2 linked regions of the Homo sapiens genome follow. The protein of the gene in region 2 purifies or fractionates together with the protein of the main gene of each other region. This does not show direct contact. Each region holds a gene or a part of one and is shown on either strand. Other genes may lie near its edges.

Evidence for each region.
Region 1: the proteins of KRT80 (region 2) and IFT57 purify together in Homo sapiens (affinity purification with mass spectrometry; one large-scale study listed by BioGRID and IntAct). This does not show direct contact.

What each region holds. Positions count from the first base shown.
Region 1 is NC_000003.12:108,194,925-108,198,424, reverse strand, and holds part of IFT57 (intraflagellar transport protein 57 homolog), read left to right. Parts: intron 1-3,500. UniProt on the Homo sapiens protein: Required for the formation of cilia. Plays an indirect role in sonic hedgehog signaling, cilia being required for all activity of the hedgehog pathway.
Region 2 is NC_000012.12:52,178,515-52,182,014, reverse strand, and holds part of KRT80 (keratin, type II cytoskeletal 80), read left to right. Parts: intron 1-1,051; coding exon 1,052-1,112; coding exon of another isoform or gene 1,113-1,406; coding exon 1,407-1,502; intron 1,503-3,500.

The DNA of each region.
Region 1 (3,500 bases), on a different chromosome or scaffold from region 2:
CCAAACATGAGGAGTGACAAGTGTTATAGTTTGAAGTAGGCATAATTAAGCATGACAAGAAAATCAAAAACATAAAATACAAATCTGAATGCATAAAAATTAAAACTTTATATTACAAGAAAGCAGAGTGGGGAACACCGTTAAGTTAAAATACAAGTGATGAACTGGAGAAAAATAATTATAGCCTATGTGCAAAGGGTTGATAGACATGTGCTAAGGTGTTTTAGAGCTTGTGCTCTAGAGTAACACTGCCTGACCTACCAATCACAAGATGTGACATTGAAAAAGTCATGTAACTATTCTGTGCCTCAGTTTCCTCACTTTAAAAGATGGTAATAAGACTCCCTGTTTCATGGTGTTATTATTGGGCATTTAACCCATATGTAAAAGCATCTAGTACCGTGTTTGGCATGTAATAGTAATGATAATAACTGCTAAAATATACCAGGGGTTAATATGTATTATACACTGTGCAAGCCTTTTAAATACATTGTCTCATTTAATGCTCACAGCAACCCTTCCAATGAGGAAGGTGCTGTTATTCTCATTTTACAGATGGGTACTCCGAGATTTAGAGAGGTTATGTAACTTGACCAACAGCTAGTAAGTCATGGAGGTGGGATTTGAGCAAAGATGTGATTCCAGACCCATCCTCTTAACATTTACACCATGCTGTTGTGACTCTTAAGACAACTTAGTTCCCTTTTCCTTGAGTCTTGGGAGTATTTAATCTTGAGAGTTAATTGGACTTTTAACACCCTCTCAGTAGGTATATGATATAAGCTCTTCAAATGAATCTGGACACTAGTATATCCATGAAGTTGCCATCTCATGTATATTTTTACAGAACATAGCCTTTCTTTGATGCTTGACCAAAGATTACTGGAACAGGATTCTAAGTAGGCTTTTAACACTGTATGTTTGATTCTTGAACTGACTTCGATGGTGTGCCCCACTGTTTGAGCCCAAGGTTACTTTATGGGATAGTGTAGACTGTTATTTTCAGTTCTTCCTTTGGCAGTTAGGATCAGTTCCCATCTCATCAGTTTCTCCTTTTACCTAGGACCAATTATTACTCCCATTAACTGGCCTCAGACTTTTCCTAGTAGTCTGCAAACTCTGCAGGCAGCATTTAAATCCTTTTAGCTTTCCACACCAAGCACAGTGCCTGAATTCTTACCTTGAATGTTGTAGGAGTTTAACAAATGGCTTATTAATTTAATTAATTATAAATGAGACTTCTAGATAACTTGTGTCTTATGAGCTTCTAATTGTTTCTTCTGCAGCAGTAACTGGAAAATGGAATTTCCCAAAAGCAATGCTTTATATTAGTTAATGTGTTAGAGAGGGACTTTGTCATGATGATATAAAATTTTGATTAAATGAAAAGCAGTTTATTTCTCTTGTACAAGTGACCCACATAAAGTACCATTTATGAAATGGAAAAACAATTGGGAAGAAAAATTTTCTCAAAGTATTATAACCAAGGCACAGTATAGTTTTAAAATGATTTATACTTTATATATAGGGCTTGCTCAGTTAATGTATCAAGTTATTAGGCATTAAGAAATGTTGAGTGAGGAATGAGGTTATGAAATAGATATGCAAACATGGATGTAGAAAGAAACTGTATAGTTTGAATAAGTTAATGCTGCTCTGCCAAACCTAATGTTCTCTTTTTGCCCTTTATTCACTTAGCAACTGGGCCATTTCCCCTAGTATATTAATTATGGCCTACGAGTGAGTGAAAATTTTTGAGCTCCTATGTTAAATCATTTTAGAACATTGGGAGTGGGAGTTAGCAAATCGTTGCTTAAGGGAACCAAATAATAAGCTAGTAAAGGTAAATGCAACTTACTAAAGGGCCCAACATAAAAACAAATAGCTTATGCAGTGGCATATCTTAATGCAGTGTTTGATCTTTATGTACCCTGCTGCCTCAGATTCTAGGTCTAGTTCAAATGGCCACTGCAAACCCATCTGCCTTTATGAAAAATGCCCTTCCTTCAGTAAAACATTTTGAGTATGTTATTCACAACTTGAACAATCCTACATCCAGGCCTGAAGAAAGTGGTAGTATGGACGGGTGTGCGCCCTTGTCTTGTTTGGTGATTCTGAACTTCAATCTTGTAAGGAGGGAAAGAAAGAGGGGTTGGAAATGAGGGTGGAAATGAGGGTTGGAGAGCACTGGCTTTGGGATTTAATCAACAGCATCTAGCTTCAGTTCACCCAAATGGTACTCCATAAATCAAACTTATTTTTATATATTTTTTATTTTTTTATCTTTAGTTATTATGAACACATAGTGCATATTTATGGGGTGTATGTGATATTTTGATACAAGGCATACAATGCGTAATGATCAGATCAGGGTAATTGGGCTATCAATCACCTCAAGCATTTATCATTTCTTTGTGTTAAGAACATTCCCGTTCCACATTTTTAGGTATTTTGAAATATATAATACATTACCGTTAATTATAGTTGCCCTATTGTGCTACCGAACACTAGGTCTTATTTTTTCTATATAACTAATGCAGTTTTAAATAACTATATTTTCATACCCAATAACCATTCACTTTTTATCCCTCCTCCCCGCTACCATTCTCAATCTCTGGTAACCATCATTCTACTCTCTACCTCCATGAAATCTACTTATTTTTACCTCCCACATATGAGTGAGAACATGTGATATTTGTCTTACTGTTCCTGGCATATTTCATTTAACATAATGACCTCCAATTCCATCCATGTTGCTACAAATGACAAAATTTCATTCTTTTTATGGCTAAATAATATCCCATTGTGTATATATACCTTGTTTTCTTTATCCATTCATCCCTTGATCAACACTTAGGTTGATTCCCTATCTCGGCTATTGTGGATAGTGCTGCAGTAAACATGCGAATGCAGATTTCTCTTTAACATACTGATTTCCTTCCTTTTGGGTATATGCTCCGCAGCAGCATTGCTAGATTATATGATAGATTTTTAGTTTTTTGAGGAACCTCCAAAGTGTTCTCCATAGTGACTGTATTAATTTACTTTCCCACCAACACTATACAAGTGTTCCCCTTTCTCCATATCCTTGCCAGCATTTGTTATTGCCTGTCTTTTTGATAAAACCATTTTAACTGAGGTAAAATGGTATCTTGTGGTTTTGGTTCGCATTTCTCTGGTGATTAGTAATGATTAGTGATCATTTTTTCGTATAATTGCTGGCCATTTGTATGACTTGTTTTGAGAAATGTCTCTTTTTGATCTTTTGCCTATTTTTTAATTAGATCATTTGGGTTTTTTTCCTACTGAGTTGTTTGAACTTCTTATATATTCTGATTGTTAATCCCCTTTCAGATGGGTAGTTTGCAAATATTTTCTCCCATTCTGTGGGTTGTCTCTTCATTTTGTTGATTGCTTCCTTTTCTGTGCAGAAGCTTTTTAGCTTGACATGATCCCATTTGTCCATTTTTGCTTTGTCTATCTGTGCTTTTGAGGTCTTA
Region 2 (3,500 bases):
TGAGGGGCGCCAGATATAGCCAGCTCAATGGGTGATGAGTGACGCAGCCCTGCTGGGAGGCTAGGGCCTGAGGTAGGCAGGCGGCTGTAATTAGAGCCGCCAGTGATTCAGGCATTCCCCGAATAGGAGGGAAAAAAACAGAAGCTGCTGAATCCCCACAGCAGCTGGGGCCAGCGAGAAGTCTGGAGCCAGCAGACACCCACCCTGGGGCTAAGACAAACAAATGTCTTGACTTGAGGAAGAGGGTCGGGCCAGGGATCTGGGGGTCCTGTCCTCCCCACCCAACGGTGTCCTTGTTCCAAACCCAAGGTGGGAGCGAGTAAGAAGTCCAAACTGAGAAGAGCGTTATTGAGCTTTGTTGAGTATGGCCTATGCGGCCTGTAGCTGGCTGTCAACTGCGTCAGGGGTGGGTTTGTCAGCCCCCTGTACACGTGGGCACATGCCTACCCCTTAGAGGCAGGAAGCCAAGAGAGGAGGGGTGATGCAACTTGCCCAAAAACACACTGGGGGTCCCTCTGACAGCAAAGTTCACACTCTTTCCAGCCTCCCTTTGGAGGGAATACAATGGGATGGTGTCCTACTGGCTCGCAAAGCAGAGGGGTGGTGGCTGGGGCTGCAGGGAAGGCATGGAGGTGGGAGAGGTGAGGTGTGAGCAAGATGCTCCCAGCGGACTTGAGTGAACCTGAGATTGCCAGGGAAGGAGGTCAGGTAAAGATGAGGGGATAAAGTGCCAGGGTGAGGGGCTGCACAATCAGGGAGGCCTCCTGGAGGGGAGTGGGTGTGGAGCAGAGCCAGGAAAGGGCAGAAGCCACTGGGAGAGGACTGTGTCATCAGGAGGGAGTGAGGAACGGGGAGCCAATGCCAGGAGGTCGGGGGGAGAGAGAGAGGATGTGTCATAGAAGATGCAAGAGGGAGAAGGATGGGCTGCTTTTCTTTAATTGGCAAAGAGACCCCAAGTGGGATAGCACAGGCCCTGAGCCCCAACCAAGGGGAGTTCACCAGGCCCAAGCCCCCACCATATCCAGCTGAGCAACCCCTCTCTCCCTCCCAGGTATGAGGATGAGATCTCCAAGCGCACAGACATGGAGTTCACCTTTGTTCAGCTGAAGAAGGTAGCCTGCCCAGCCTGCCCCAGGGGCTCCTTCCTCATGGGCCCTGGGCCCTCTTTCCCTCCAGATATCCTACTCTCCTTTATGCCCAATCAAAGCCCTCAGAGGCTTAAGTCCCAGGACCAACAGACAGACAGGGAGATACCCCCATCCCCATCCAGCTCCTTTTTCGAGGCTCTGAGCCAGATCTCCTCTGGAATCACCCCCACTCTCACCCAGGAGGCAGCCCCCCAGCCCACTCCTGCCCTGGGACCCTCCATTCCCTCTCCCACCACTCACCACTGCTGCCAACCCCAGGACCTGGATGCAGAGTGTCTTCATCGGACTGAACTGGAAACCAAGTTAAAAAGCCTGGAGAGCTTCGTGGAGTTGATGAAAACCATCTATGAGCAGGTGAGTGAGATGGGGCCAGTGTCTTGCCAAGCCCAGAGCTGGCTGGTCCATGGGTAAAGGACACAGGGGAAGCACAGCCATCCAGTGGGGCATGGAACCTCCAACAGTCACTTACAATTTCCAGCCCCAGAATAATAATTTCCTAAACCCCTTCCTGTGATGGTGTCAATAACCCTGCATGACCCCTGGACATTCATCTCATGGAACATGGGCTGGTTCCCCAAAGGCCACTCTTTCTGGAAGAACTATACCTTTGTGTGCTAGAGTACTGAGGGCATGCTGGGGACCAGGTGCCTCGGACAAGGGTCAGGAGGCTGGCCTCAGTGGCATGGAACCCAGGGGTCTGGAACGAGCATGCTGATTGAACTGATCTCTCCCTAATTCCTGCAGCCTAAACCACAGCACCCACAGTGCTAGTTCTGATAGGCCTGCCTTTCCGTTTTCCCCATTTTTGGCGAAGACAGAGGAAACATTCGCATTTGTTTCCTAAGTCCTCAGTGGGGCCCAGTGTACAAGGGCCCATAACAGCATGGCATGCATCAACACAGCCATTAGATGGGCACTGCCGCTGGCTTCTGGACACCACTCCTCCATGCCAGCTGCTGACTCCTAGGCACCCTTCAGGATATGTGTCCTCCTCTCCACACCACTTGTTTCAAGGGTGAGGAGGTTCAGGGGTGACACTCCTGAGCTAAAGTCCCTTCCACAGAGGTCTGCAGTTCAGCTAGGAGCAGGCAGCACCACTGTTGGAGATAACAGGGCTTGCCCGCCTAAGTGCTGCACACTGCTGGTGCCAAGCTATGGCAGTGCAGCCAAGGTCAAGGCTGAGATCAAAGTCACCACCACAACTTACAGATTCTGCTAAAATGGCCCTATGATCTGCTGACCACAGCTTCATGGCTGCATCCTGTGGAAAGGAAGACCGGGCCTCATGGCCCTGTCATGGGTCACAGTCCTTTCCAGCAGTCCCAGCTGCCAGCTGGGGCCTCCGTGGAACTGAGTCTTGTTTGTGGCCACGAGAGGTAGCATAGCAGAGAGAACAGCAAACCCTTGGGAGCAGCAGGAAGGCAGCCCTCCTAGGCAGTCCGCTCTCCCCACAGCCCTGAAAAGCTTCCTGGCCCTAACAAATCCCCCCACAGCCAGGCCAAGTGCTATGGGGCTGACCAGGGCACCATGCCCACTGGCTGGGTGGGAACTGGGCTAGGGGCTTCTCTGCCCAAACTCACTGTGGGCTGGTGCAGCCCAGGCTGGCATCAGCAGGGCCATCTCCTGTCTCCACTGGGCTGGATCTCTGCCACCCTTAGGCCTCCACCCACTCATACTGCCTCTGAGAGGCTGAGTCCATGGGTGAGTGCAGATTCTGCCGAGCCTAGATGGAGTGCAGATTCTGAAAACCGAGCCCAGTGTTTCTCTACCTGCTCACTGATGTCTCAGCAAGCTCAGAGCTCAAGCTCTAAGCCATGATGCAGGCCCTGCAGCTGTAGAGACATAACTGGAAGAAGGCTGGGCATAACCAGTGATATTCCTGAGCACCCCACAAGACTTCTTGGCCCCTGCCCCAGTAGCCAGGCCTGTGGGTTCCCTTTGGATTTTGCAGTCCTTGGGCCCCAATCCCAACTTGGCCTTGTTTTTTTTTTTTACTATTTCTGTAACTTTAGGCAAGTTTTTTCTCCTCTCTGTGCCTTAGTGTCCTTATCTGTAGCATGGAGAGAGTAACAGGACCAGCCTCATAGGGCTGTGAGGAGGACTCAGCCCACTCATTCATTTAACAAATGTTTATTGCATGCCTACTAAGTGCCAGGCACTGATACCACAGCCTGGGCAAGGTCCCTTCTCTCAAGGAGGGCATGACTTAGCTGAGACAAGTCATAAGCAAGTCAGCAAATATCTGGACAAGATCGCTTCGCAGGGTGACAGATTCTGGGATGCAAAGAAACCGGGTGCTGCGCTGGAGCCGGAAGGAGGGAAGAGCCTCAGAGCCCATGAGCGGGGCCTCTC